2 separate regions of the Homo sapiens genome follow, and region 2 is linked to region 1. The links come from fine-mapping of genetic effects on gene expression. Tissue or cell type: whole blood. Region 1 holds a variant in brackets; the other region holds the start of a gene. All regions are shown on one strand. Distances are between the middles of the regions.

Evidence for each region. PIP is the estimated chance that this variant, and not a neighbour inherited with it, causes the effect.
Region 2: it holds the start of PLEK, and the variant in region 1 is fine-mapped to the expression of PLEK in whole blood (TOPMed, PIP above 0.99).

The regions. Positions count from the first base shown.
Region 1 is chr2:68,439,212-68,449,665 of GRCh38, reverse strand. It overlaps the pseudogene WDR4P2. Among named protein-coding and RNA genes, the nearest start is that of FBXO48, 23 kb to the left of the region's middle. RefSeq lists a silencer at 7,626-7,865 and enhancers at 8,056-8,105, 8,196-8,245. The variant A/C (reference allele first, on the strand shown) is at 5,270.
Region 2 is chr2:68,359,965-68,370,418 of GRCh38, reverse strand. It overlaps PLEK (pleckstrin), which reads right to left and starts at 5,137. Exons shown (of 9, transcript NM_002664.3): 1 at 5,026-5,137. The coding sequence starts at 5,067. LOC101927723 (a long non-coding RNA gene) reads left to right here and starts at 4,015. Exons shown (of 2, transcript NR_187652.1): 1 at 4,015-5,004; 2 at 7,960-9,202. RefSeq lists enhancers at 5,098-5,177, 8,109-8,178.

The sequences.
Region 1 (10,454 bases):
TATTACATAGAATATAATATATTTTATATATATTCTATATAATATATAAAATACTAGGGTGTATATATATTACATGGTATATATATATTACATGATATATATATATCCACACCATGGAATACTACTCAGCCATACAAAGGAACAAAATAATGGCATTCGGAGCATCCTGGATCCTGGATGGAGTTGGAGACCATTATTCTAGGTGAAATAACTCAAGAATGGAAAACCAAACATTGTATGTTCTATCTTATGAGGGAGAGCTTAAGCTATGAAGACTCAAAGAATAATATAATGGACTTTGGGGACCCGAGGGGAATGGGAAAGTGTGGGCAAGGGATAAAAGGCTACACATTGGGTTCACCATACACTGCTCAGATGATTGGGTGCTCCAAAATCTCAGTAATTACCACTGAATAACTTATCCATGTAACCAAAACCCACCTGTTCCCCCAAAACTATTGAAATAAGTTAAAAATGTGCTGGGTGGGGAAATATGCATGGCGGCGAGGCGGGTAGGCACAAGGCAGACTCTGCGGGGCTGGCGTTGTGCGGGCAGAAGCTGGTGGTGCAGGGGAGCAGCCGGTTCCAGACCACCTCCACTGCAAGCAGTGACGATGACAGCCTCTTCATCTATGACTGCAGTGCTTGAAAACAAGTCACAAGAAAATAAAGGGGACGACGAGCCGCCCTTGGTTCAGGGGAGCGGTGCAATTGTCGGTCCACCTTCTCCAAGTCTGGCAGCTGTTTTCTTTAACCGATGGCAGTAAGTGTCTGATTCTTTTCTGTACATAACCATGGCAATGTCTGAGTGTCAGGACCATGACAAGGAGGTGTACGGACCTGACCTTCACAGCCTCCGAAGAGAAGGTCTTGGTGGCTGACAAGTCTGGAGGCGTCTCCTCTTCGGTGCTGGAGCCACACGGATGCGGCCGACTGGAGCTGCAGCACCTTTCTGTCCATGCTATTAGACGTGGCTGTGCATCCTGATGACCACTTCGTCCTCACTGCGGACCGGGACGAGAAGATCCAGGTCAGCAGGGCCGCCATGCCCCGCAGCATTGAGTCCTCCTGCCTCGGGCACACAGTTTGTGAACTACATCTCCATGTTGCCCACTCAGCCTGAGCTGCTTCCATCCTCCTCCGGGGCCTGCACCCTGAGGCTCTGGGAGTACAGAAGCGGCCGCCAACTTCACTTCTGTCACCTCCACAGTCTCCAAGAGTCCGCGGACCTCCAGGTCCCCCCAGAGGTTTGCCGCGTCCAGGATTGCGTTCTGGTGCCAGGAGAACCGGGTGGTGCTTCTGAGCACCTGCATTGCTGTGGGATACATCTTCCAGTTTCACGCCGGTAGACAGAAGCTGGTGTACAGGCAGCAGCTGTCATTCCAGCATCGAGTGTGGGATGTAGCTTTTGAGGAAACCCAGGGGCTGTCGGTGCTCCAGGACTGCCTGGAAGCCCCCCTCCCCTGGTGCTCTGCAGGCCTGTGGGTGGCCAGTGGCAGTCTGTTCCTGAAAGTGCCATGTTAAAGAAAGTCTCCAGTGTTCTTTGTGGGAACCGGGCCATGCTGGAAGGCTCTGCCTGCGTGAACCCCAGCTTTAGCAGTCTCTACAAGGCCAACTTTGACAACATAACCTTCTACCTGAAGAAGAAAGAGGAGAGACTGCAGCAGCAGCTGAAGAAGCAGCAGCGCAGTTGAGTCCCCCACCTGGGCCAATGGGCAGGCCAAGAAGATAAGGCCGGGGGAGTCAGCCTGGCGTTGCTGATCTTGGCTGTCGGTGGTGCCCCACACCCTCGAAACAGGAAAAGTAGTTTTCACTTGTTCCCCCTGCATCCTGGCATCTCCCTTCAAAAAGGAAAAGGTGGCCGGGCGTTTTGGCTCACGCCTGTAATCCCAGCACTTTGGGAGGCCGAGGCGGGCAGATCACGAGGTCAGGACATTGAGACCATCCTGGCTAACACGGTTAAACCCCGTCTCTACTTAAAAAAATACAAAAAATTAGCCGGGCGTGGTGGCGGGCGCCTGTAGTCAGTCCCAGCTGCTCAAGAGGCTGAGGCAGGAGAATGGCGTGAACCCGGGAGGCAGAGCTTGCAGCGAGCCGAGATCGCGCCACTGCACTCCAGCCTGGGTGACAGAGCCAGACTCCGTCTCAAAAAAAAAAAAAGGAAAAGGTGACATCAGGTGCGACCAGCTCAGCTCAGAGAACGGGACTGTCTCCTGGGCTCTAGAACATTCTGTGTTGCTGGGCACAGGCTCTTGCCTGGTGCCTGTGCTCCTTTCTGGTTGAAGGGAAGCCAGACGGGTGGAGTGGAAGCACTTTACCTTCACGTTGAAGGCAGCGTGTGAACCTGCAGTGGTGGCAGCTGTCAGTTTTCTGCTATTCTGGAGCCTGGCGCGCTTCCTCTAGGAGGATCTATCGCCGACGCTGTGGACGCTTTCCTGTTGTTCCCACCATCTCACGGTCCAGGTGATGCGCTGCCCCGCAGTAGCTGCTCGCCATACGAGGCTGTTGAAACTTAGTGTTCCATATTTTTGCATATCTACAACTATCTGATCTTTGACAAACCTGAGAAAAACAAGCAATGGGGGAAGGATTCCCTATTTAATAAAAGGTGCTGGGAAAACTGGCTAGCCATATGTAGAAAGCTGAAACTGGATCCCTTCCTTACACCTTATACAAAAATCAATTCAAGATGGATTAAAGACTTAAACGTTAGACCTAAAACCATAAAAACCCTAGAAGAAAACCTACGCTTTACCATTCAGGACATAGGCATGGGCAAGGACTTCATGTCTAAAAACACCAAAAGCAATGGCAACAAAAGCCAAAATTGACAAATGGGATCTCATTAAACTAAAGAGCTTCTGCACAGCAAAACAAACTACCATCAGAGTGAACAGGCAACCTACAAAATGGGAGAAAATTTTCGCAACCTACTCATCTGACAAAGGGCTAATATCCAGAATCGACAATGAACTCAAACAAATTTACAAGAAAAAAACAAACAACCCCATCAAAAAGTGGGCAAAGAACATGAACAGACACTTCTCAAAAGAAGACATTTATGCAGCCAAAAAACACATGAAAAAATGCTCACCATCACTGGCCGTCAGAGAAATGCAAATCAAAACCACAATGAGATACCATCTCACACCAGTTAGAATGGCAATCATTAAAATGTCAGGAAACAACAGGTGCTGGAGAGGATGTGGAGAAATAGGAACACTTTTACACTGTTGATGGGACTGTAAACTAGTTCAACCATTGTGCAAGTCAGTGTGGCAATTCCTCAGGGATCTAGAACTAGAAATACCATTTGACCCAGCCATCCCATTACTGGGTATATACCCAAAGACTATAAATCATGCTGCTATAAAGACACATGCACAAGTATGTTTATTGTGGCATTATTCACAATAGCAAAGACTTGGAACCAACCCAAATGTCCAACAATGATAGACTGGATTAAGAAAATGTGGCACATATACACCATGGAATACTATTCAGCCATAAAAAACGATGAGTTCATGTCCTTTGTAGGGACATGGATGAAACTGGAAATCATCATTCTCAGTAAACTATCGCAAGAACAAAAAACCAAACACCTCATATTCTCACTCATAGGTGGGAATTGAACAATGAGAACACATGGACACAGGAAGGGGAACATCACACTCTGGGGCCTGTTGTGGGGTGGGGGGAGGGGGGAGGGATAGCATTAGGAGATATACCTAATGCTAGATAACGAGTTAGTGGGTGCAGCGCACCAGCATGGCACATGTATACATATGTAACTAACCTGCACATTGTGCACATGTACCCTAAAACTTAAAGTATAATAATAATAATAATAATAATAATAAAGAAACTTAGAACGAACGCTTCAGCCTGCCCCAGCCCCAGCACTGCACCTTGTACTCAGGAGGTGCCCGTGGCGAGTGGTTCCCACGTGGGAAGTGCCCAAACGCGTTTCAGTGTCGCAGGGAGCTCTGTCAGGTGGCGCTTGCACAGACGGTGAACTTGATTCAGGAACTGTGAGGACATGGGTCCGGCTAGAAACCCGGTTTTACAGGAAGGTGATCGAAGACGTCGTGCGTGTTTGTTATTTTGATTTGACCTTTGCGCACACTGCAGAGCAGCAGGGATGTCACTGTATTTCAATCACCGATCCATAAGGATTAACTTTTGCAACTCCCTGGAAACGTTTAGCAGCAACACGTGAAACTAGTCTCAAAATACATCAAGCAAAACCTTTGGGTGCGTGCTCTGTTTATGAGTGAGGTGATCACTGCTTGATTTGGGAAGAGGCTTCTAGGTACATGGGGTAATTCGTTCAGGACGGCTTCCACCTGCTCTTCAGTGATTAAATCTCAACAAGGGAACAGATGTGCACGCTGGTGATGATTTTGGTGTGGGTTTTCGCTGGGGACTTAGAATCCTTAGTTTTCCTTTTAACAGTGATCTGGAAACAGTGCTGTCTGCAAAGCTGAGGCCCACTCCCCTGTGCTGGGGACCAGGGGTTTCAGAACAGAGGGGCCATGCCAGACCATTGTCCTCCTGTACCAGCAGCCTCACCTCCTTCACAATTCTGGGGAATCTGGAGCGGGGCATGCTCTTGTTAATAGTCTGCTTTGAAAATTTTGGTTTTAGGAGAAGTTAAGGTTGGTCTTGTCGGTATCTTCACGTAAGATAGGGTTGGCAAACTGGCATGTGGGCTGAATCCTGCCCACTGCCTGATATATGGCCTGCGAATGTTTTTTACATTTTAAAAATCGTTGAAAACAAGTTAAAAATATATTTCATGACATGAAAATCGTGAAATTCAAATTTCAATGTCTGTGAATAAACTTTTATTGACACAGTAAAAAAAAAAAAAGAAATAAGAGAGATAAATATAAAACCACACACACACTTTTGTTGAGCTGATGTATTTGAAAGTAGGTTTGCATACTTCATGACATTTTGCCCCAGAATATCATAGCATGTATTTCTTTCTTTTTTTTTTTCTTTTGAGGTGGAGTCTCGCTCTGTCACCAGGCTGGAGTGCAGTGGCGTGATCCTCTGACTCCATGGTTAAAGTGATTCTCCAGCCTCAGCCTCCCAAGTAGCTGGGATTAAGGCACATGCCACCACGCCCAGCTAATTTTTGTATTTTTAGTAGAGATGGGGTTTCACCATATTGGCCAGGATGGTCTCAATATCCTGACTTCGTAATCCGCCCACCTCAGCCTCCCAAAATTCTGTGATTACAGGCATGAGCCACCGCGCCCTG[A/C]CATAGCATGTATTTCTTAAGGAAATGCACACATGCCTGCATAACCATAATCACACCCAAGAAATTTAACTTTCATCCAATAATCATATCATCTAATACCCAGCTCAGATTGAAATTTCCCTCAGCTGATCACAGAAAAATGTGTTTTCAAGCTTCTGAATGTGTGCCAACCTGAAAATGAGAAATATATTAATTTTTTCTCAGTAATTTACTATGAGCTTTTCCAAATATACACTAAAGTTGAGAGAACTTCCTCATTGTAAATTTAATTCAAATTTCTCTGCCATAAACATGAGGTTTATATGTTTAAGGGCATGGGTGGGTTTTGGTGTGTATGAATCTTTGTGTTTCTCAATTTTTGAGTGTTTTGTAAATTGAGGAGTTTAGTTCTTTATCTATGACATATGTTGCAATTATATTACTCCCAGTTTGTCACTTGTCTTTTGACTTTGCTTGTGATGCTTTTTTTTTTAAACAAATATTCTTTACATTTTATTTTATTTATATTTTTAGAGTTAGGGTCTTTCTCTGTTGCCCAGACTGAAGTGCAGTGGTACAATCATGGCTCCCTGCAGCTTTGACCTCCTAGGCTCAAGTGATCCTCCCACCTCAGCTTTCCAGCTCGCTGGGACTACAGAGATGCACCACCATATCCAAATAATTGTGTGTGTGTGTGTGTGTGTGTGTGTGTGTGTGTGTGTGTGTAGACAGCCTCCCCTTGTTGCCCAGACTGGTCTCAAACTTCTGGGCTCAAGAGATCCTCCTGTCTCAGCCTCCCAACGTACTGGAACCACGCCTGACCAGTCCTTTTTATTGATGTCAAAATTATTGCTTTTTTTCTGCTATTATATCTGGATGATGAACATGGTTTAAAATTTTTCCCACCACAAGATTACAAACAAATTCACTTATGTTTTCTTCAAGTACTTATGTGGCTCATTCTTTCTATATAAGTTTTTCCTGGAGTATAATGTATGTTAAGGATCCAAAGCTATCTGTTTTCAAGTGACTGTTCAGTTGTCCTAACACCATTTATTAATAAGTCTGTCTGTAATTTGAGATGCCACCTTATTTATATGAAAATTTTCTTTTTAGTTGGTTCTATTTCTGAACTTTCCATTATGTTCCAGATCTGTCTATCCATTCATACCACACTGTTTTAATTATACAAAATATTTATTGTGCATTGATATTTAATAGGGTTCTCTCTCTTCACTGACCTTTTTTACTGGTTTTCCTATTTAAGCATATATGTTTGTTTATCCACATGAACTTTGGAATCAATTTCTGTAGTCCCAGGAAAACTACATATTGCAATTTTATTAGGGTGGTATTAAATTAGAGATAATTTATTTCATCATAATGTCAAGTTATCTTATCCAAGACCAAGAAATATTTCCATTTGTCTTTTAGGAATGTTTTAAACTTTTCCTCATATGGATTTTACACATTACCTCTTAAGTTTACTTTCAAGTATTTTATATTTTTGTCATTATTGCAAATTGAATTTTTTCTTCTTTTATCTTCTAACTAGCTATCATTTACATACACACACATTTACACTCACACACACGTGTGATTTTTGTACACTCATTTTGTAGCCTGCTAACTTACTGAGGTCTTTTGTTCATTTAGAGTCATCATTTATTCTATTGGGTTTTCCAGATATACTGTCATATCAACTGCAAATGGAGAGAGTTTAACTACTTTTCCAAGTCTTATGCCCCAATTTTTTAACTAGTATACTAATGTCTCCAATATGATGTTAAATAGTAATGGAGATGGCAGACATTTTTACCTTGTTTCTTGCCTTAGTGGGAATGTTTCCAGTATTCTAGTATTACTCCATTATAATATTCTCTTTCTCTTTCTCTCTCTCTCCCTCCCTCTCTCCTGTGTCTCTGTCTCTCATACATATATAAAATCATGTTAAAGGAAAACCCATTAATGTCTATTTTATCTAATACTTCTACTGGAAATGTATATTAAATTTTATAAAGGGACTTTTTGGCATATCTGATTTGTTATACATTTCTCACCTGAAAATTTCTAAGAACTTTACTAATATTAGTACTCTACATTCTATAACAATAGTTTCTTCAGTTGATACAATGTATGTATGTTTTCTCAGCTCCAGAGAACCAATAACATTGAATATCATATTTTAGAACCATGAAAAAACTTGATAAACAGTCTGACTTTCTTCGCCAAAACTGTCTTATAATAGTATCTTTCAACGATTAAGTACTTTTCACATGGCCATTTATGTACTCATCAAAGAGTCTTGAAAGGTAGTTTCTGACATTAATATTTTTAAGATACAAAAATGCAGACTTATAGAAGTAACATTACTTAAGCAAAGCAAAACAGCTTGCATATGGAGGAGAAAGACCTTGACTCCAGGACTGGCTCTAAAATGCTTTCTGTCACATCGTCCTTGAGATCTGGTCAATGCTAATCCTCTGCCAGCAGAGGGCGCAATACTTCTATTAAAGCCCAGTCAAAGCGCTTGAGTGGGAGCAGCTAGTTCCCCATTGCAGCCCTGTTGGCTGATTGCAAAACCTCAAAAGTCAGAATTTGTCTGTACCCTTTTAGTTGCAAATGACAGAACTGAAACTAGTCCTGCCCAAACCAGGTGGGAGGGTTGGACTGAAAATGGAGTAGGGTGTTTCCCCAGAGAGAACATAGAGTATAGCCCCAAAATGACAAAAAGCCTCTTCTGCTAGAAATATAAGATATCAGGGAACATAATACTCCAATGAAGAGACTTCTCTTCCCACTCCACCCTTCAGACCTGGCCTGGCCAACAGGCCACCCCCTAGGTTTCTATCTGAACCTTCAAAGATCCAATTAAGAACACTTAAATTCAGCTTTTGCGTATTTTATCCACAAAGGCCCAAGTCATTATTCTGTATTTTGCCACAGGGATATTATTTCATACGGATTTGTTCTCCAAAACTTCAGCCTGGCATTTCCACTGACTCTGTAGCTCTGTGAAACCAAGCTGTAGGTGTGAGTATATTCTGTTGACATAGCAGATATGAGCTCTGAGGTTGGGTTAAGTGTAAAGAAATTTCTCACCCTTTTACTAACATTGTGAATAAATTCTAGTCTCTTGTGTGAAAAGACTGTAAAAGGAGTTCACCTGGGGATGAGAACATTTCTAAGATTATGTTTTTATTCTTTCCCTCTGAAAACTCGCATAGGCAGAAAGAATGAGCCAGAGGCCTTGGGGAGTTGAGCAAAGTAACCAAAATTCACATCCAAAATTTCATTTCATTTAAAAATAAACCTATCACATGGAAATTTTGAAATTCATCTCCTGGATTATGTGCTTTAGTACACACACACACACACACACACACACACACACACACACACACAGTATCCACACCTCAAAATGGAAAGTAAAATGTACCCAAGTATGGTGTATAATTTTATCTCAATATGACTTACTTTTGGATTCTACTTTCCTGACCCTGCCCAAAGTACAATGTATTTTTGATTCAAAAGTCAACACTCAAGATTAATGTCCATAGATAACAATAATAGTTGAGTGCTTACTATACAGAAGCTATCCTGCCAACAACCTTTGGAGGAATTCCCTTCCTTGGAATTGCTGTTGACATAGCAGATATGAGCTCTGCTTGCTGTTGACCAGCAGGCTTGCTGTTGGCATTAAACAGATACATGAGAGGTCACGCGCTGATCTGGTTTGGCTCTGTATCCCCACCTGAATCTCATCTTGTAGCTCCCATAATTCCCACATGTTGTCGGAGGGACACAGTGACAGATGATTGAATTATGGGGGCAGGTCTTTCCCATGCTGTTCTCATAATAGTGAACAGGCCTTACGAGAGCTGATAGTTTTTAAAATGGGAGTTGCCCTGCACAAGCTCTCTTTTTATCTGCCGCCATCCACATAAGATGTGACTTGCTCCTCCTTGCCTTCCACCAGGTCTGTGAGGCCTCCCCAACCATGTGGAACTATAAGTCCATTACATGCATTTTCCTGTATAAATTACCCAGTCTAGGGTATGTCTTTATCAGCAGCATGAGAACAGACTAATACACATACCCTGGCAATTCAGGCCCCCCTGCACTGCCCTCAAGAAACCCGACTGGAGCCCCCAACCCATGAGGGTTGTGTAGGCTCAGAGGCTGCTCTTAGTAAGTCATGTGGCTTGTCAGCTTTGTTTCTTCTTAAGTAATGGGAGCTTATTTTTCCAGACCTTTATTCCATAAATGCTTGGGGATTTAGAGTTAAATTTTAGCAAGTTTTAACATTTTGATTGTATGTAATTCCTCCTTTAGTCTTTTGTCACCTCTCTATTTTTGTTCTCTCTGTTTATCCTTCAGCTTATTTTAGGTTTGTCGTGATTTTACCTTTCTAAATCTTATGGGTCTAGCATTTTTACTTTTCACGTGGTCTATTCTTGACTTTACACTGTATATTTTATCCTTTTAATCTTTTTCTAAATTTTACCATAATTTTCTACCTTAATCTGTTACTTTAATTTTTTAGTTATAGCTCTTTTGATCTTTTTTATTTTTAACCAAATCTATTACTTTAATTTCTGAATAATTCTTGCCTCAATCTTTTTACTTATAGTTCCTTTTTTATTCTTTTAACTTAAATTTTTGTTCACGTTTTTCTTTTTAAATGTGTTCTCTTTTGCCCAGAGTACCTTTAAAAATATTTTATTCTTTTTTTTTTTTTAACTCTCAAGCTATAGCGCTGGGCAGAGTTTATGATCTAGAATTAACACAGCTGTGGTGAATGTACACACATGGAACATTGGATACTTTTTCCTTCTAGCCATCTCTGCATTTATCTTTCTGACTGCTTAGAAAATCATTCATCATATTCAGTGTTTTTCTCCAAAAATAAGTAACTGGGCTGTGTCAGAGACTGAGGAATGACAACCCCTTCCCAGGGCCCGAAGCTTCCTACTTATGCAGGCAGCAATTTGAAATACTAGAATGAATGTCTCTTTGTAAAGAATTACATCTTCTAAAAACCTGTGGTCTCCGATGTATAACTCATCTATAGAAGGGGTGGAGATTGGGAAGAAATTACCTCTTCTTCCTCCAATTTTCTCCATTGCTTTAAACTGTGAATTCCACTGCTTGAACCAGAAACCCATGAGACATCCACGCAAGTTCTGTGCATTCTACCTCATCA
Region 2 (10,454 bases), 79 kb after region 1:
GGGAGAGAGTGACCTCCAGGTCAGTGTGATGAATGCACAAATTGAGGTGTGCCTTCTTGTGTACACCCAGCATCACAGAAAGAAGCTACAACCAATGGCTGAGGGTTGGGGCAATCGGATATTTGTGTTTAGAACCCCTCTCAGACACTCCCTACAAAGTGAAGGCATCTCTTTTAACTTCCCCTTTCCCTCAAATTTCTCTTTTCACATACAATGTATGGCTGGAATTCAAAGGAAAATTACACTGTGATCAAAACTGCATATCTAAAGCAGAACTGTCAGTTACTATTATCTATTCTTGCACACCCATGGGACATGTTATTTTAAGTTGATGCTGCATTCAATTAAGCCCTTATGTTGGCTACAACATAAATCACATCATCTAGTTTTCCAATCTGATCCATCAAATCACTGACATAACATCCCAAACAAATGGTTGTGTTGTGCCTATACAAACTCACTGAAGGCAAAGGAACTAGTCTATTCAGTAGCATATTTTTTACATAAGTGAACTCTTCCAGGTTGGAAAATTTATCAGTGAAAACATATTAAATAAGTAATACAGAAATGGCACAGAGAGTGCTTAACAGCATGACTTCTGGAGCCTTAGATTTAAATTCAGATCTCAATTTTGCCTCTTCCAGGCTCTGTAACCTTAGGTAACTTATTTAATTTTTCCAAGCATGAGTCTCCTCACCTGTAAAATGAAGGTAACAAAGCACCTGTTTCACATTGTGGTGAAGATTAAATGAGATAATATACATAAAGCATTCACCACAGTGGCCAGCATGTAGTATACATTTGAAAAATGGCGACCATAGAAACAGGTAAAAGTACGGTTTTGGGGGCGGAGGTTGCAGTGAGCCGAGATCGTACCATTGCACTCCAGCCTGGGCAACAAGAGCAAAACTCCATCTCAAAAAAAAAAAAAAAAAAGAGTACGGTTTTGTAGGCAACACTGTGGAGTCGCTCTGGCATAATGTTCCCCTGGGTACCCCTCATCATGGTGACAGTGCTTTGGAAAAGAATGTCACTGCAGTACGAGCCCACGAGGGCCACATAGAAAGTGGTTAGGCTCTGCGTGATACTGGGGCCACACTGCTGGGTTGCAAACCAGCTCTGCCACTTATTAACTGTGTGACTTTGGACAAGGCCATTTGCCTCTCTGTACTTCAATCTCCTTATCTGTTAAGTAAGGATAATAATTGTCCCCATTTTGTTGAGTTGTCTTAAGTATGCTGTATAAATGCATTAAGGCATGAAATGCTTGGAACTGTTCCTGCTTCAGGGTAAACACCACATGCGTTAGCTGTTACAGTGATGATGAATCAGTAGGCACAAATCGCTTCAGATTATTTCATGCTGCCTAGAAGACAAGGTAGATCCAGGAAAGAACTCCTGGGCCAGGACCCTGACTCTCGGGCTCTCTTCCACTTCTACCACAGCTTTCTGCAGCCCTTTCCTTTCCTGTCCCTGCTGCTTGCCCTTCCCTTTCCCATCACCCTGATTCCTATGCTTTCTCCCAGCCTCAAAGGACATCCAAATCCCTCAGCCACTTTCTGAGTCAGCGCTGCTGCGCCAAGTGCTTGTGAGGTTGGTTGTCCTGGAAACAACAGCTTGCTCCATAAACCTCTAGGAATTAGGCTGGTTTGAGACATGACTTGGAGGAGTCTAGGTTATGCAGAGCATATAATTTGCTCTTCTCTCATTTTTTCCAGTTATGATGATGAACATATCTAATTCAGTAGTAGGTATTCGAGTACCTTCCAAACATGTTTATTGGCCAGAAAGAAACCCCCTAAACAGAGAGGAAAGGAGGCTGAGGTTTTTAAACTTAATCTTGCCCACAAAACAATTTGTTCGTGCCTTGCTCTGGCTCTAGTGAGTTCTTTTGCAGGCCAGGGCAAGCCTGCCTTTCAGAATGCTGCCTGGGATCAATGAGATGGTAGGCTTTGCTGTTAGGCAGGCCGGGATTTGAATCCCAGGTCATCCTCTTGCCACATGTTTCACTGTGGACGAATCACTTATTCTCTGTGAACCTCAGTTTTCTTATCTGTAAGATGAGGATCACATAGGGTGGTTAGGATTAAATGAAGTCATGTTCGTATAGCAGCTTGCTGCTCCATGGTTGGCTAGAAGTGCTCTTTTTTAAAACAAAAAAGTAAGGTGAAAGACTCTGAGGCAAAGAGACATGGGTGTTACTTGGAATGAAAAAGCTGGAAAATGACAGAATCTTGTATTTTCCCTCCCCCTCTTAACCACTGTCTTCATTTGGAGATCTTATTCAGGAGGCAAAAGAGGAAACCTGGATTGTGAAATGTCAACAGTCATCTTGCACAGAAGAAAAGCAGAAACGTTTTACAGTTAACACTATTGACCCCAAGATTTCTGACCTGACAAAATTCCTGCACCAGCATTTTCTAATGCTATATTTTTTCCACCCAAAACAACTTATCTGCAATAAAATTATTTCATAAAACAAGACACAGGACAAAGATGTTCTCTGTTACTACCCAGGTATCTTGAACTGCATAAGAGAAAAAGGTGAATGGAGGAAGATTCACTATATTATTTTTCATGCTTTAATATCAAAAACCATAGCCAAGGCTTCTAAGAGCCTTTTCAAAGATTTTTATGGCCCTTCCTTCATAATTAATTTGGCAACCAACCCAGGAACCAGTACATAGCCCCATTAACATCTAGGGGAGGCCCCACTATCTACTGAAGCATATATTGATGCTGATACAAATAATCAGTGTCTTATGCAGCTTATGTACACCAATTATATGTCAGATTCTTGACATATACAGTTTTTAACCCACACGTGAGGTAACTGAAGGAAACTTAATGTCTAAAGTAGTTAAGAACTTTAATACCTTCTCAGGAAACTCTGTCTTTAGGTTTAGTTCTGCAGCTGAAAAAGGGAATATTTCTGGACCAAACATTTCTTTAAAATATCAAATGAGACGCTGGAAGCTATGTGAGAGTGGAGGGTTGGAGAAGGGAGAGGATCAGAAAAAATAACTATTGGATACTAGGCATAGTACTTAGGTAACAAAATGATCTGTACAACAAACGCCTGTCACAGGAGTTTACCTATATAACAAGCCTGTACCTATACTCCTGAACCTAAAATTAAAGTTTTAGAAGAATAAAAAAAAAAAAGAGAATCTTAATGCATTATATCAGAGTGTTCAAAAGGTCCCAGAGAAAAATGCAGTAATTATGGAAGATGTAACTTGTAAACATGAAAATTATGGAAGATATAAATTGTAAAACTATCAATACAAAATTTCACTATTTAATTCCAGGCACATTTTCTAGATTGGCTTTTACAATCTGAGAGAACTACTCTCACTAATTAAAAACTATTTATTAATTTAAATCCACATGCTTGACAACCCTGACTCTATCATCCCCAATTTTTAGTGAGACAGCTTCACTTATTAGAAATTTAGTCTTCATATTTTTGTAATTTAGGGAGATTAAAATATGAGCATACAAACTTTATAACAGCAATTTTCATTGCAAGATGTTTTTAATTGTTTAAAAAAACAAACAAAAACTTGCAGAAATGTTCCTATTCACTTGCTCTTCTCAGGATACTAGCACAAGTGATCAGGAAAGGAATAAGTCAATATTAATTATTACCAGGTCTCGCCAATTATTATTGGTGCCTATTGCAAGTAATCTTTTACACTTCTATGTATAAGTGTGTCTTTTCCAAAGGATGTTTCGAAGCACAGCTGGCTACAGAGATTAGCAGCTGAGGGCCCACTTATTCTCCAGTACCAACTCATAGCTCTCACCATCACAAATACACTACAAATCCTAACTTGGAATAAATCTGCTTTAAGAAAATGCTGGAGTAATGAACAAAGTTCAGTGCCATGAATCAGAAACCTAAGCATCAGAGAAGGAGTGGCTGGTCACAACTGTCATAGCCATGTGACTTGGGGCAATCACCGAGCCTTCTGGGTCTGTCTCCTCTTCTGCAAATGAAGGAATTAGGCCAGATGACCTAGGGTCCCTCCAGCCTGAAGTCAAAATGGAAGCAGGCAGCAATGTGTGCTATTTAACCCCCCTTACAGGTAGAACATTGTAGGTTAAAACGTGAAACAAATGAGTAGCCTAAAACAGACTCACATTCACTGTTCATTCAACTAAAAAGCTAAGCACCTGAAGGAAGGCACTACGTTCAGCTCATTTCTGAAACAATCCACTCACTAAGGTTAGTGTGAGCATATCTGTGTATATAGGTGTTGCCCACAGGACACCAAGTCCTATGTGTGAATTCACATCCCGGGGAGCTTTCACAACCACACAGCACACACTCAGCATCCGAAGAAAGACAAACAGCACTAAGAAAATTCAATTTTCATGATGCACACCAGGGAGGCTAAGCCTTTTTCAGTACCCTAATCTTTAAAATGGTGCATCTACCACCTCGATGCCACATTATGCAAATTTACTAAGAATTGTGAGTGAAGAGATTTCAGCCCAATTAAAAAAAGATAAGGTTTTTTTTAAACGTGTCAATTCCAAGAAGATGGCCCAAGAAATAAGCCGTAATTACTCTATCATTATATCAACTCTTTAATCACTTTTTTCCCCTTGCCTCCCAAAAAAAGAACTGAGGGGAAGTGGAATTTAAATAAAAAATGAATAGTCCCTCCAAGAAACCTCCATAGAAGAGGAGTATATCTTCTGACAGAACACATCTGTGTGCCTCTTAAAAAGGATATTCTAAATCTGGAGGGAGTTAGCTTAGATCCCCACCTTCCAGGCCCTGCCATCTGGAATTCTCAGACCCGTAATATCAAACTGTAAGGAAGCCGGGGCTGGATGAGTATCCCCACTCCCCTAACCCCACTCCAACATTCTATGTGCTACCACGCTCCCCTATTTCAACCCAACTGGTTGAACAGGAAACATTCCTAAGATGAGCAGGTAGCCGGTGGAGCTGAACCCAAGTCTCCCCAGCCCATGTCCACTGACACCCTGGTAAGTGGCACCTTCGCTCACCTTCTTCACAAGGTAGCCCTCTCTGATCCGCTTTGGTTCCATGCTGGCTGGACAGGCAGATGCAAAGGTCACTCTCAGGCAACTCCTCTCAGCAGCTGGGCCTCCTCTGCATGCTGAGGTGGCTGTGGGCCGCCTTTTCTACAGCAGGTCGCTTTCACAATTTCCCTTCTGCTGGCGGTCGCATGATCACATCCTCTTCCCCTCACTGGGTTGGAAGATCAGAATAAGGAACTGCAGAGTAAACCACCCATTCCTTGCTAATGCTGGAGACTTATTAAAACCACAGTTGGGTTGAATATTTACCTAAGGGAAATTCTTACTACCATACAGAAAATCCCTCTTTTAAAGAGAAAAAGAAGTGATGAAAGGAAGAGGAAGATGAACAAGAAAAACTTGTTGGTGAAAATTGTCCTGAGTAAGGATTATTCTTGAGATCCTGGAAATGCCCAATAAAAATGCCAAGAAATTCAGAACCATCTGGTTAGCATAACAAAGTTAACTACTAAATGAATGCCTACTTCTCTCTATGCCAAGCCCTGTATCAAGTGTTTCTCAGCCTACTTATTTTAAACTAAATTAGTCTGCACATCGGCCAGGCATGGTAGCTCACGCCTGTACTCCCAGCACTTTGGGAGGCCAAGGCAGATGGATCACCTGGGGTCAGGAGTTCAAGACCAGCCTGGCCAACATGGTGAAACCTTGTCTCTACTAAAAATACAAAAATTAGCCGGGCATGGTGGCGTGTGCCTGTAGTCCCAGCTACTCGGGAGGCTGAGGCAGCAGAATCACTTGAACCTGGGAGGCGGAGGTTGCAGTGAGCCGAGATTGGTCCACTGCACTCCAGCCTGGGCGACAGAGAAAGACTTCATCTCAAAACAAACAACAACAAAAATGAGTCCACACATCAAACCCATAGGGAAAGTATATTATTTTCCTTATCTTAGAGTAAGGAAACTCAGGCTCAGAGAAGAAAAGTTGTCTCAAGTTGACGCTGCAGGTCACAGGGGAAAGCAGAAGAACCAGGGAGGGATGTGCTAGGGTGCCACTGCCTCACATCAGGCATGAGAACAGGTGTTCCACGTTGAGTGCTGATCTCACAGTCAGCCTGTAAAAAGAAGTCCATCATCAAACAGGTTTTTGAGAAACTTTACAAAATAATCCCAGGTTGGCAACTCCTCTAAATGATGAACAAATTAAAGACCTTCGCCCCGCCAAAGTACTACAGTAAAGAATCCTATAATGGTGTTTTCCAAACTTACTTCGCCATAGCATTCTTTTTTGAACAATTTATGTTAACTTTTTTTGTCATAAATTGAATTAGATCTCCCAAAAAAGAAGTCCTAACCCTTAGCACTTCAGAATGCATCCTTATTTGGAAATAGGGTCATTGTAGATATAATTAGTTAAGATGAGGTCATACTGAAACAAGTGGGCCCTTAATCCAATGTGACTGGTGTCCTTATAAGAAAAGGGCACACAGAAAACAGCCATGTGACAACAGAGTGATGCATTTACAAGCCAAGGAACGCCAAGGATGGCCAGCAACCCCCAGAAGCTGGAAGAGGCACGCAACAATTCTCTCCTAGAGTTGCTATAGAGAACATGGTGCTGACGACACCTTGATTTCAGACTTACGGCCTCCAGAACTGTAAGACAATAAATTTCCATTGTTTTAAGCCACCAGTTTGTGGTACTTTGTTATGGCAGCCCCAGGAAACCAATATAATCCTGAAAAACGAATATTCCATAGAATAAACTTAGAGACCCGTTAATCTGACCATGTGAAAATGAGCAAGTTTGTTATTACTTTGTGCCTCAGTTTTCTCATCTGTAATACGGGGATAATAACACCTATCCAATGAGGTCATTCTGAAGATTAAATGAGATAGACATGGAAGTATTTAGAAGAGTGTCTGAAACATAACTAGTATCCATAAATATTAGTTGTTCTTCATCTTCAAGGCAAATCTCCGTTATCCTAGAGCTGATCCTTTTCAATGATAAGTTCAACAGAGATGATGAAAGCAATCGTAGGACTAGATTTTCCTCATTACACCCGTCAGTGTTCTTTCACTGCAATCAACAGATAACAACTCTGGCTAATAGAGGCAAATAGGAATTTACTGGAAGAGAATGGAGTGGCCCACAGACTGCAGGAAAAATGAAGACTGGGGTCTTTGAAAGGACAGGAATCAGGGCAGTTGTGGGGTTCCAGGAAGCAAGACACCAAGATGAAAGAATGCCAGTGGTTTTCAGACTCTGCAGTAGTCTCCAGGGATCAGGCCTCTGATTGGCCTAACTTGGCCTAGTGCTTCTCTCTCCGGTATCTGAAGGGGGAACATGTGAACCGACAGCCCCAGCAGGACCATGCTCAATGGGAGAAGGGAGGTGTCCCCTAAAGTAAAATCAAGATGCTATTAACAATAGATGAGCGATGGCTCCGAGAAAGGCAAAACTGACAGACGTCCACGAGGGCATCTGAGGAGCCAGGAAAGTTAGGGGAAAGAAGAAGTTCTGTTCTTGGGGTTTTCTGAGAGCTTCCTGATTCCCTCTCCTCTTCCCTCCAGCTGTGTTTCTAGCTAACAGTCACTGCCCCTGTATTTCTCACTTTTCATTTTATGCTAATATCCATTACTTAAAATCGTTGATGGTTTCTTTTCAGTTTCTCATTGCACCAAAATTAATTAGAAATTGTTATAAAGTGTTGGGGGCTGAGAGTAGAGGGATCAACGTTTGATGTCACCTGAGCAAAACAGGAACAAATAAAAGGGTAATTTTCTGTATCTGCACTCAAACAAGTATTTTGCTATGTCTGTATAGTCAATGGAAACCACTCTTAGATTTACCAAGTCTGATTTCATAGTTAAATATATCTCCTTTTGTTTAACTGACCAAGTGACTTCTAATTTGGAATGTCTTCACTGTTTGTCCTAGCATGATCAGAAGGCTTTAAAGAACCCTCACTCAGAAACCTCATATTATTTTTGGATGCCTCCGGTGTAAAAGCACCCCCTGCGTTCCGAATAATTCATTTCAAGAAACATGGTATTAAGTGTTTAGTATGTACCAGGCGCCTGAATAGGTGCAGGGGTAAAAATGTCTTGACACCAAGGAACCTCCGGCATTTGTGAATCTGCTGAACATCGCCATTGATGGACTGGATGCTGCCGCCTTTGCCCCTCCCCCTCCTGCCACGTGTCATCGCGCCTACTTAGCGACACCTAGTGGTCAGTAAAGAGAACTATCTGAATCAATGACGCCTTTCAGGACTTCTCTCAACAGAGTTTGACCAAGTTTTCTTCTGCTGTGTCAGATCCCTCTCCCAGATCAGATCATTAGAACCTCCTCCAGTATCTTATGTATATGTGTCTAGAATGACTTTTTTTTGAGACAGAGTCTTGCTCTGTCGCCCAGGCTGGAGTGCAATGGCCTGATCTTGGCTCACTGCAACCTCCACCTCCCAGGTTCAAGTGATCCTCCCACCTCAGCCTCCCAAGTAGCTGGGATTACAGGGACACGCCACCACGCCCGGCTATTTTTGTATTTTTAGTAGAGACAAGGTTTCACCATGCTGGCCAGGCTGGTCTTGAACTCCTGACCTCCGGTGATCTGCCTGCCTTGGCCTCCCAAAGTTCTGGGATTACAGGTGTAAGCCACCGCACCCAGCCTAGAATGACTTTTTAACATCTCTTTCTGTACACATTTGATCAATAACCTTGGAAACATTATTCTTGTAGCACATTTTATTGCTGTAAGGGCAAGTTAAGACTTCTGAATAAGCAAAAATGATTACTGAGCATCTCCAATGGAAAACTATGCATTCTTTACAGCACACTTTTCTAAGTTATTTGTTTCTATGGAATCTGTGTTTTTTTCTTGTCTTGGAGTTATTCTAGAGCTCGGTAGATTGTGGATAAATACAAATAATTCTTGTCTATAAACATGCAAATAAATTCTGCCTGATGGAAGTTCAGTAGACTCCACCTTACCCCACACCCGCACTCCACCCCGCCTCCCATGGAAAAAGTCAATTTTGTGTCCATTGGTAAATGAATTTCAACGTTGCTTTACTCTATATAAATTGGTCTTTGACCTTGCCTTTGAACTGGTGGTGACCTCTGGCTAGTTTCCCCTTTAATTCATGAGTTAAATAAAATTTTGACATGTTTTCATTCTATTATATGTAAGAGTCATCGTTTTATCTTTTTCAAAGTTATTCTTTAGCATTGGTAATTCAAAAGAGACATTAAATTTAGCTGAGAAATATCAGACTACCTCTAGTGCTAAATATAAATTAAGTAAAAGGTGTCAAAACCTGTGAGAAGAGTCTGAGATGTTACCCTACTTGTAAGTTAACAGGTCAGCCTGCCTGTTTCAGGGATGCTCACAGAAGACTCAAGACTTCTGGAGTTTTGAGTGAGACAAAGGACTTTGCTACTCACAGCACAGTAAACAGAATTAGCTCCATATTGGTCTTGATGCTTTTTGGCCCTAAGTCTACCAAGGACAAAGTGGAGCGGCCTAGATGGATGCTGCACATACTGAGGGTTCGCATCACAATTGAGGACCCAGAGCTTAGGGAACATGAATCTTTTGTAATGGGCTGCAAGCAAACCAGCCCAAACTTTGTCTCAGAGGCAGACCTTATTTTTATTTTACTGGACAGTAAGTGAATCTGCCCTTTGCTCTGGAAGGAGACAACCTCTACCTTCAAAGCTGTTGTTCACTGTACAAGCATCCATAAAATAGAGTACCTCTGCTTGCAAGTTGTACCTATACACAAAAAACCCATGGAGAACTTTCTCCCAACAAAAAGAAAGCATTAAGTTGTCTAATTCACTTAAACCTATTAGAGAATATCTAGTTGGTGCCCAATGGGCTTCAGTTCAAAAGAGGGAACTGAGCCCACATACTGAGTAATCCCCTTTCAACAGATACACAAATTCATATGGAAATGATTTAAGAATATATAAAAGTGTGAACATATACCCACTTGCTCAAAAGAAAGCACTTTCACACATATATTTCCTTGCTGTGTTAGTGGAGAAGGCCTAGAAGCGACAACACCCTGGTAGTGTCAAGCACATCTAGCTCCCAGATCTTGATTACTAATACGATTCTCCAATAAAAGGAATGAGACGTCCTTGGAGAAATAGATGGCTCTAAGATTTCAGCAGGAAATGCAAAAGATGACCCTGAAGCATCCTGCGTACCAGAAAGTAAGAAAGTGCTAAAAATTTTAACTAAAAACACAAAAAACTAAAACCATGATGGTGATCAAAGGGACCAAAGAGCCAACTGACTGAGCACCTAGTGGCCAAAGCTAGAAAATTTAGAGCAAGAAAATAAAGAAAATAGTATTGGATTATAACCAAAGTCTAAAAATAAATAAATTAATGATTGAGTAAATAAATAAGAGAGAATACACA